Homo sapiens: one gene and its partner. The protein of the gene in region 1 interacts with the protein of each later gene in a biochemical or structural test. Each region holds a gene or a part of one and is shown in the gene's direction. Other genes may lie near its edges.

What was found.
Region 2: the proteins of CASP3 (region 1) and ARNT form a complex in vitro, tested with the Homo sapiens proteins (one study listed by BioGRID).

The regions. Positions count from the first base shown.
Region 1 is NC_000004.12:184,638,679-184,643,881, reverse strand, and holds part of CASP3 (caspase-3 isoform a preproprotein), read left to right. Parts: intron 1-5,203. UniProt on the Homo sapiens protein: Thiol protease that acts as a major effector caspase involved in the execution phase of apoptosis. Following cleavage and activation by initiator caspases (CASP8, CASP9 and/or CASP10), mediates execution of apoptosis by catalyzing cleavage of many proteins.
Region 2 is NC_000001.11:150,869,945-150,874,537, reverse strand, and holds part of ARNT (aryl hydrocarbon receptor nuclear translocator), read left to right. Parts: intron 1-4,593. UniProt on the Homo sapiens protein: Required for activity of the AHR. Upon ligand binding, AHR translocates into the nucleus, where it heterodimerizes with ARNT and induces transcription by binding to xenobiotic response elements (XRE).

The DNA.
Region 1 (5,203 bases):
ATAAACATATGTGTTCAGAAATTTCCTTTCTTAGCAGCAGCATCCTGAATTGAACAGAATTACACACACATCAGCCCAGTAAGAAACAATTCATGTTAAGTCCATTGCTATGCCAGGATAAATCTTTTAAATCACAATTATTTTTCCTATTTATATTTTGTCAAATAAGAATGTTCTAAAAACCAAAATTTCTGTTTTCTTTTTTTTTTTTTTTTTTTTTTGAGACGGAGTCTCACTCTGTCGCCCAGGCTGGAGTGCAGTGGCGCGATCTCGGCTCACGGCAAGCTCCACCTCCCGGGTTCACGCCATTCTCCTGCCTCAGCCTCCTGAGTAGCTGGGACTACAGGCACCCACCACCACGCCTGGCTAATTTTTTATATTTTTAGTAGAGACGGGGTTTCACCGTGTTAGCCAGGATGGTCTTGATCTCCCGAACTTGTGATCCGCCCGCCTCGGCCTCCCAAAGTGCTGGGATTACAGGCAAAATTTCTGTTTTCATTTAAGGCAGTGACTATTTCCCTTAGGATGTGATTTTTTTATCCTTCTAAGATGAGATCACCATCCTCAGAATAATTTGTACCCTGCTGGGCACTAGCTAATGGAGGTGATGTCATGCTAAGCAGCACTTCAGTGAGTTTTGCGGGAACCAAAGCTCTGCTCCCAGGAGTGTGGATTTGGTGCTTTCATGTGGAAAAAGCGGATGATGACAAGTAGAGAGCAAATGTGCGCATGTCTGATGCTGTAAGGATTTCATCTACCATCATATAAATTTTTAGAAGTATATCAAAATAAACTGATAACTGAGGCAATGTATGTTGTTCAGATACTAATAATGAAGTTAATGAAGTCCACTATAGTATTTGTATAGTATTTGTATATTACAGTACTCTGAAAAGCTGGTCACTATTTAAAGTTTCCATTACCAGTCACAAGGAGAGAATAATTTTATCCCACAATTTTATTGCTGGCAAAAGACACAAGTTTATTAAAAGTCAGTATTTCAGTGTAAGAGTTACTAGACTGTTTGCAGAAGTGTTCAAAAGAGATCTTTAGGTCCTTGGTTGTCTGTGGAAGCTGATCAGCATTTAGGGGTTCCTGAGCACAGACTGTGAACCCTGCATTTGGCACATGCATTCAGAGAGCCAATTTGAGGCAGACTGGGGGCTAGAAAGGATACTGCCAGGAGCTCCAGGTTCAGCTTCCGAAGTTATTAAGTCTTATTTCCCAGTTTTTAAATTAGACTTCATTTTTTAGAGCAGTTTTAGGTTCAAACCAAAATTGAGAAGAACGTACAGAGACATCCTGTATCCCACCTGCCCCCCAACACGTGCGTAGTCTCCCCCATTATCAACATCCTGCACCAGAGTAGTACATTCTTACAAAGGAACCTACACTGACACGTCATCATCACCCAAACGCCATCGTTCACAATCAAGTTCACTCTTGGTGCTGTTTATCCTATGGTTTTGGACAAATTTACAAGGACTTGTATCCACCATTATATTGTCACACTGAGTAGTTTCACTGCCTTAAAAAGTCTCCGTGCGGGCCGGGCACGGTGGCTCACGCCTGTAATCCCAGCACTTTGGGAGGCCAAGGCGGGCAGATCACGAGGTTAGGAGTTCGAGACCAGCCTGGCCAACATGGTGAAACCCCGTCTCTACTAAAAATACAAAAATTAGCCTGGCATGGTGGCATGCGCCTGTAATCCCAGCTACTCAGGAGGCTGAGGCAGGAGAATCGCTTGAAACCTAAAGGCGGAGGTTGCAGTGAGCCGAGACCACGCCACTGCACTCCAGCCTGAGCAAGGAGCGAAATTCCATCTCAAAACAAAAAAAAAAAAAAAAAAAAATTCTCTGTGCTGTCTCCCTCCCTCCTAGCCACTGGCAACCACTGATCTTTTTACTGTCTCCATAGTTTTGCCTTTTCCAGATTGTCAGATAGTTGGAATCATGCGGTATATATGGCCTTTTCAAACTGGCTTCTTTCACTTAGTAATAATGCATTTAAAGTGTTCATGGCTTGCTAGCTCATTTCTTTTTAGTGCTCAGTAATATTCTGTTCTCTGGATATACCACGGTTTATTTATTCATTCACCGACTGAAGGACATCTTAGTTGCTTCTAGTTTTGACAGTTATGAATAAAACTGCTATAAACATCTGTGTGCAGGCTTTTGTGTGAACATAAGTTTTCAACTCCTTTGGGTAAATACCAAAGAGTGCGTATTTACCATATGGCTGGATCATATGGTAAGAGTATGTTTAGTTTTGTAGGAAACTGCCAAACTGTCTTTCGAGTTGGCTGTACCATTTTGCATTTCCACGAGCAGTGATTGAGAATCCCTGTTGCTCCACATCCTCACCAGCATTTGGTGTTGATGGTGTTCTGGTTTTGGCCATTCTGCTAGGTATGTAATGATACCTCATTGTTGCTTTAATTAGCATTTCCCATTATTTGCAGTCTGTGTATCTTTGATGAGGCCCACTGGATTTTCACTTTAGATTTTCTATAGATTGGCCATAAAGTCTTGAAACAAAGATATTTTCTCATGGATTATAATGCAATATCAGTAAACTATTATGTGTTCACCTACGTTTCCAGACTTGTTAGCTACCCTGTACTGTTCTCTCAGTTAATCAAGTTAACCACAATTTGTTTCTCAACCACAGGTGGCTAATGATTTTGTATGTGGTCTGTCCGCTTTGAATTGATGTGCATGGGGCAAGTTGGTCTCTATGATATTCATGGTTCAAGGAAGTTCGAGATTTCCTGGTACCTAATACATGTTTATTGTACATATGAAAGAAAAAAGGGCAGATAGAGGGGAACATGGTACTGAGCATGATAGAGGCAAGGAAGGGTGGCTACTTTGATAGGAGAATACCCCTATTTTTGTCACTCTTGAAACAGGGCCAAGAGTTGAAATTGGCTAGAACAATCCTGACCTTTGTTGATATTATTTTATAGAATAATATTTGTTACTGTTTTCTCACTTTTAAAAAATGCAGATGTTATAGAAAAATTAGAAGATATAGAGGAATGTTAAGGAGTAAATAAGGTGTCAGTAATGCCATCACCCAGACAGCCACTGTTAATAAATATGTTAATATGTGAAGACATACTAATATGTAATATGTACTGAGTGACTAATGGCAGGTCACTTAGTAGCTGTCTCGATTATCAGATCAACTGTCATGGTATGGCAGTGTTTATGTTCAGGTACCCGTATTAGTTATTGTTGTTAATCCCTTTCTGCGCCCAAGTTATAAACTAAACTTTTTCATAGGTATGTACGTATAGGAAAAAATATGCTGCATATAGGCTCAGTACTGTATTTGGTTTCAAGCATCTACTGGGGGACTTGGGAGGTACCCCCTGCCCCTGCCCCACAGGTATACTACTGTATAATTATTCTTCTATCTAAAGTAAGATCTAATGGAAGATAGGAACTTTGTCTTGTCTTCCACTCTGTCCTATTTCCCAGGATGATACCTGGCACAAAGTATTTGTTTACTGACAAACTAAAAGATGATTTATCCCAATTATACTCACATCTTCCCTTGATTTTCCAGAAAGCCTACAGGAAGTAAGATGGTAGAAAAGCAAAGTCTTCGTAGAAATGCAGAGCATAGACTGGCTCTTGGAGAAGGTCAAACATCACCCTCTCCTGTGGTTAAATTGAGATGGTGGCACTGGCTGTCTTCTATATTATTGCTGCACCTTTCCTCACCAGGGGTGCACACAAAACTGGGAGAGAGGGGAGGAAGGAGCTTAGCTTTGTCTTAATAGAAGGGAAGAAATGATGTTTTCCAAGAGACCTTGAAATTGGGGACCTTGGTAAAGGTTTCAGTTTGGGAAGATAAAAAAGTCCTGGGATGGATTCCAACAGTGTAACTGTACTCAATGCCACTGAGCTGTACGCTTAAGAGTGGTAAATTTTATGTCTATTTCACCACAGTTTTAAAGATTAAAATTTTTAAAAGTGGGGGAAGTTACCTAGGACTTTCTAGAAGGACTTTTGAGGGTGAGCAAGTTCTGTTATAGGCTTGTGTATTATTTTGGTATTTCTGATTTTATCATAGGAGTGAGGTTAAAGTTGTATTTTGACTGGAATTTTTGACATTGTCAGGGTTTCTAGAGTGTGGAGAAGGTCACTCAGTATTTTTTGTTTTTGTTTTTTGTTTTGCCTTTGTTCTTGTTTTCCTCTATTTAGGGAGGTGGATTGCCATGGGAAGTACCTTTGCTTCGAAAAGCCAGAAAATGCCTGGTAGAACTCCAGAAAAGTAGTAAGGAGCTGGCTTCTTCAGAGGCAGCATAGCAGAGTGGGAAGAGGGCCCTGTCACTTAGATTGTGACTGTCGACAAAGTCACTTAACCACCAGAAGTTGGGTTTTCTGACGTTTAGAATTTTGAAAAGATTAAAACTGAGTGCCTTGCAAAGTACCTGGTATATATTAAGTGCTCAATAAGTGATAGTTGCTTTGATTCTAAGAACTGGTTCACCTTGTGAGATATAATTGTGTAATGGAAGAATGAAAGCAGAAACTTTAGTTTCTACTTTTACATTTCCTGGGCCATTTTACTACCCTAAATGAGAAGCTGGGCTTCCAAAACCCACTTTAAAAGTAAAGACTAGGCCGGGTGCGGTGGCTCTTGCCTGTAATCCCAGCACTTTAGGAGGCCTAGGTGGGCAGATCACTTGAACTCAGGAGTTTGAGACCAGCCTGGGCAATACAGCGAGACCGTATGTCTACAAAAAATACAAAAATTAGCCAGACATGGTGGTGCATGCCTGTAATCCCAGCTACTCGGGAGGCTGAGGCGGGAGAATTTGAGTCCAGGAGATCGAAGCTGCAGTGAGCCGTGATTGCGCCGCTGCCCTCCAGCCTGGGTGACAGAGTGAGACCCTGCCTCAAAAGAAAAAAAAAAAAAGAATAAAGATTAATGGAGATTTGGAACATCTTGATACTGTATCTTGGGAATCTAAGCATTGTAGAATTGTGTTATGTGAGTTATACCATTGTGGTGGGAAGTTTTTGATTTTTGTTTTAACTGTGTTGAGTTGCAGTTCTTAGAAATGACCCGAGGTGTTGTCTTACAAAAGAAATAAACTGTAATCTGTATCTTGATCTGATGAGGGTATGTAAATATAAAAAATCGAGCTGTATACTTTCTATATGCTTTATGTAGTTCACTATATATA
Region 2 (4,593 bases), on another chromosome or scaffold:
ATTTTTAAATTTTTTTGTAGAGACAGATGCCTTGCTATGTTGCCCATGCTGATCTTGATCTCCTGGTCTCAAGCAAGCCTTGCCTCAGTCTCTCCAAGTTGGGAATACAGATGTGAGACACTTTGACCAGATTTCTTTTTTGATGTTGAAAAATTATTCCATCTCTTCTGACTTATTGATCCCATGTTCAGTTCAATCAAATCAGAAGATATATTTTCTTTTTTCTTTTCTCCCTTTGCTCTTGTATATCATGAGGAAGAGATCAGAGATACATTGTGGATTTTTTCAGTAGCCTGTTGCTTTTTGGGAAATGAGATTAATGAATGGAGGGACATAGGTGGAAATGTACTGTGCTTAGTGAAAGTAAATGTTTTCAGGTCAGAATTCTTTGCTACACTGTCATACCTTCTTTCCTTAGAGCCATTTTAAGGACTAGGGACACCATGCCTATTTCTTTGAGTTTTTTCTACTTTGTATTTTTGCTGGAGTACTAATTTTTTTTTTTTTTTTTTTTTTTTTACAATTCTTGTTAGTTTTGTCAAGATTTTAAAAAATATTTCACTCTTTAACCTTCACTTCAGTTAATCCTTTTTAAAAATAATACTTATTTTTATTTTTCAGACAGGTTCTTGCTCTGTCTCCCAGACTGTAGTGCAATGGTGTAATCACAGCTCACTGTAGCCTTGAACTCCTGAGCTCAAGTGATCTTCCCACCTCAGCCTCCTGAGTATCTGGGTCTACAGACACACACCACCACACCTGGATACATTTTTTAACTTTTTGTAGAAATGGGATCTTGCTATGTTGCCCAGGCTGATCTTGAACTCCTGTCCTCAAGCAATCCTCCCACCTTAGCCTCCTAAACTGCTGGGATTATAGGTGTGAGCCACTGACCCGGCCAAGTTAATCCTTAGGGTTAGTAATAGTGCTTGAACATGTTAATTGTGCTGGTGGCCCTGCAGTGTTTTTCAAGGGGACCACGTTCTTCTGCATTTTTCACTGTGGTGCTGCATTAGAAGAAGAGTAAAATATGGTTGGTACTCTCTAAGAGTTGTGTTGAAGTAATAGTTCTGTGATGATTTTTTTTCTCGAATTGATAATTCTTCATATTCTATCATTTTTCACTAGTTCTACTTATCACTGGCAAGTAGAACTCGGTGGGTAGGTGGTCCATGAAACTTTAGGCTGTTTCTTATCTATGGACTAGACAAGTTTTGTTTTGTTTTTTTTTTGTTTGTTTGTTTGTTTTGAGACAGAGTCTCACTCTGTCGCCCAGGCTGGAGTGCAGTGGTGCTATCTTGGCTCACTGCAAGCTCCGCCTCCCAGGTTCACGCCATTCTCCTGCCTCAGCCTCCCGAGTAGCTGGGACTACAGGTACCCGCCACCACGCCCGGCTAATTTTTTTTTTTGTATTTTTAGTAGAGACAGGGTTTCACCCTGTTAGCCAGGGTGGTCTCGATCTCCTGACCTTGTGATCCGCCTGCCTCGGCCTCCCAAAGTGCTGGGATTACAGGCTTGAGTCACCGTGCCCGGCCCGGACTAGACAAGTTTTGAGGAACACATTTTTTTTCCCCATAGGAGAGGGTCTTGCTCTGTCACTGAGGCTGGAGTGCAGTGACACAATCATGGCTCACTGCAGCCTTGACCTTCTGGGAGCATGTGATCCTCCCACTTCAGCCTCCTGAGTAGGTGGGACCACAGGTGTGCACCACCGTGGCTGGCTAATTTTAAATTTTTTTTAGAGACAGGGTCTTGCTATGTTGCCCAGGCTGGTCTTTAACTCCTGGCCTCAAGTGATCTTCCTGCGTTGGGCACTCCCCAAGAGCTGGGATTATAGGCATGACCACCATGCCCAGCCAAGGTGGAACACTTTTTAAATTGAATGTGTCATTTGTAATGCATTGGCTGAGGGAACAGTTGGGAGGAGATTAGGTATTTGATTTACAATTCCAAATTCAAACTAGAGATGTTGAATGAGTTTGTAGTAAGTGTAGGTTTTTATCTCTCTTGATTCTGGTATTCTCATTAGCAGAGAATTCTTTTTGTGCTATTATGTACAAGTTACTGTGGATGAAGAATGTAGAAGGAAAAGGGTAATACCGTTTGGGTTTGTAAGGCTGTCATTTAGGAAGAAAATTTTTTTTAGCTAATTTTCACCTATATAACTTAGTTTTAACTGCGTCAATTAACACAATTCTTACCTGTTACCTTTATTTACCTTTTTCAGATATGGGAAAATAGGAATTCATGCAATGTAAAGTTAAGATGTCAAGATATTCTTTTATGGCCAGGTGTGGTGGCTCGTGCCTCTAATCCCTTTGGGAGGCCGAGGCAGGCCGATTGCTTGAGCCCAGGAATTTGAGACCAGCCCGGACAACGTGACGAAACCCCTTTACTACAAAAAATACAAAAAATTTTCCGGGCACTGTGGTGCACTTCTATAGTCCCAGCTACTTGGGAGGCTGAGATGGGAGTATCACCTGAGCCTGGAAAGTTGAAGCTGCAGTGAGCTGTGATCATGCCACTGTACTCCAGCCTGGGTGTTGGAGTGAGACCCTGTCCCCCAACAAAAAAAGAGATAGTATTTTATTATATTGCAAAGGCCTTTTTTTTTTTTTTTTTTTTTTTTTGAGACAGGGTCTTACTGTGTCGCCCAGGCTGGAGTGCAATGGCGTGATCTTGGCTCACTGCAACCTCCGCCTCCTGGGTTCAAGCTATTCTCCCGCCTCAGCCTCCCGAGTAGCTGGGATTACAGGCACCTGCCATCACGCCGGCTAATTTTTTATTTTTAATAGAGACAGGGTTTCTCCATGTTGGCCAGGCTGGTCTTGAACTCCTCACCTCAGGTGATCCGCCCACCTTGGCCTCCCAAAGTGCTGGGATTACAGGCGTGAGCCGCCATGCTCCGCCGCCATCTGTTTTTAAGAATGCTGCCTTGGCCGGGCATGGTGGCTCATGCCTGTAATCCTAGCATTTTGGGAGGCCGAAGTGGGCAGATCACCTGAGGTCAGGAGTTCAAGACCAGCCTGGCCAACATGGAGAAACCCTGTCTCTACTAAAAATACAAAAATTAGCCAGGCATGGTGGCAGGTGCCTGTAATCCCAGCTACTCGGGAGGCTGAGGCGGGAGAATCGCTTGAACCTGGAAGGTGGTGGTTGCAGTGAGCTGAGATCGTACCACTGCACTCTAGCCTGGGCGACAGAGTGAGACTCCGTCTAAAAAAAAAAAAAAAAAAAAAAAAACCACGACTGCCTAATATGCCATAATGACTTTAGTAAGTAGACATCAGTGAATCTTCAGGTTGGAAATATGACAACACCTATCATTTTACACTTAAGGAGACAAACCCAGGGAAAGGAGTGGATAATTAAGTTCCTTCTATATGCCAGGCTGCACTTTCCTATTTTGTTGCTAATCTTTATGTCTAGTCTGTAGCAACTGTCTCCAACTTTTCACATAAACTCTTCAAATTTATGTCACTTTTCATAATTTCGTCAATGTATTTTCTTGTTTTAAAGTTTTTATTATTTTAGATAGTGACCGGGTCTCACTATATTGCCCCGGCTGGTCTCAAACTCCTGGGCTCAAGCAATCCTCCTGCCTCGGCCTCCCAGAGTGCCGGGGTTACAGGTGTGAGCCACCCTCTGAGGCCCATTTTATATTTTCCCTCCACGTTTTCATTGTAGTTGAATGGACAAGTAAGTTTATGGATTCAACAGTATACTTAGGGCTGGACATGGTGGCTCATACCTGTAATCCTAGCACTTTGGGAGGCTGATGTAGGTGGATTGCTTGAGCCCAAAAGTTTGAGACCAGCCTGGGCAACGTGGTGAAACCCCATCTGTACAAAAAAATACAAAAAATTAGCAGGGTGTGGTAGCATTCCCTGTAGTCCCAGCTACGTGGGAGACTGAGATGCGAGGATGACCTGAGCCTGGGAGGTTGAGGCTGCAGTGAGCCATGATTGTGCCACTGCATTCCTGTCTGGGTGACTAGGAGACAGAGTGAGACCCTGTCTCAAAAAACACAACAAAACCAGCATACTTAGGATATAAGTTCCATGAGAGCAGAACTTTTGCTTTCCTTGTTTACCAGAGCATTGCAGTGCTTACAGTGGGTGCCTAGTATGTTGGATTAGAGTTCAATGTATGTTTGTGGAATAAAAATGAATGTAAAACCCACTGTTAATATGAAATACCTTTGAAGGGATAAAACTAATTAAGCCATTGACATCATGAATTTGTACTAACTATAATAATATCTAATATTTATTAGTAATACTTACCAGCTGTTCTCATTTAATTTTTATAACAATCGTATTAGGTAAGTATTATTATTCTTGTTTTACAGATGAGGAAACTAAGGCACAGAGAGTGAATAAGTAACTTGTCTGAAGTCACATAGCTACTAGAAGTTAGAGACAGAATTTTATTGTTGGCAGTCCATCTACACAGTCATCATTCTTAATCTCCAAGTTATGATTTTTTCCATTGTGACTTAGAGTCACCTTCCTACTGAAATATAGTACAATGGATATCTTTTGAGAAGGAGGTAGGTGGAGTATTGTCTTTTTTGTAGATGAAAAGGGTGAA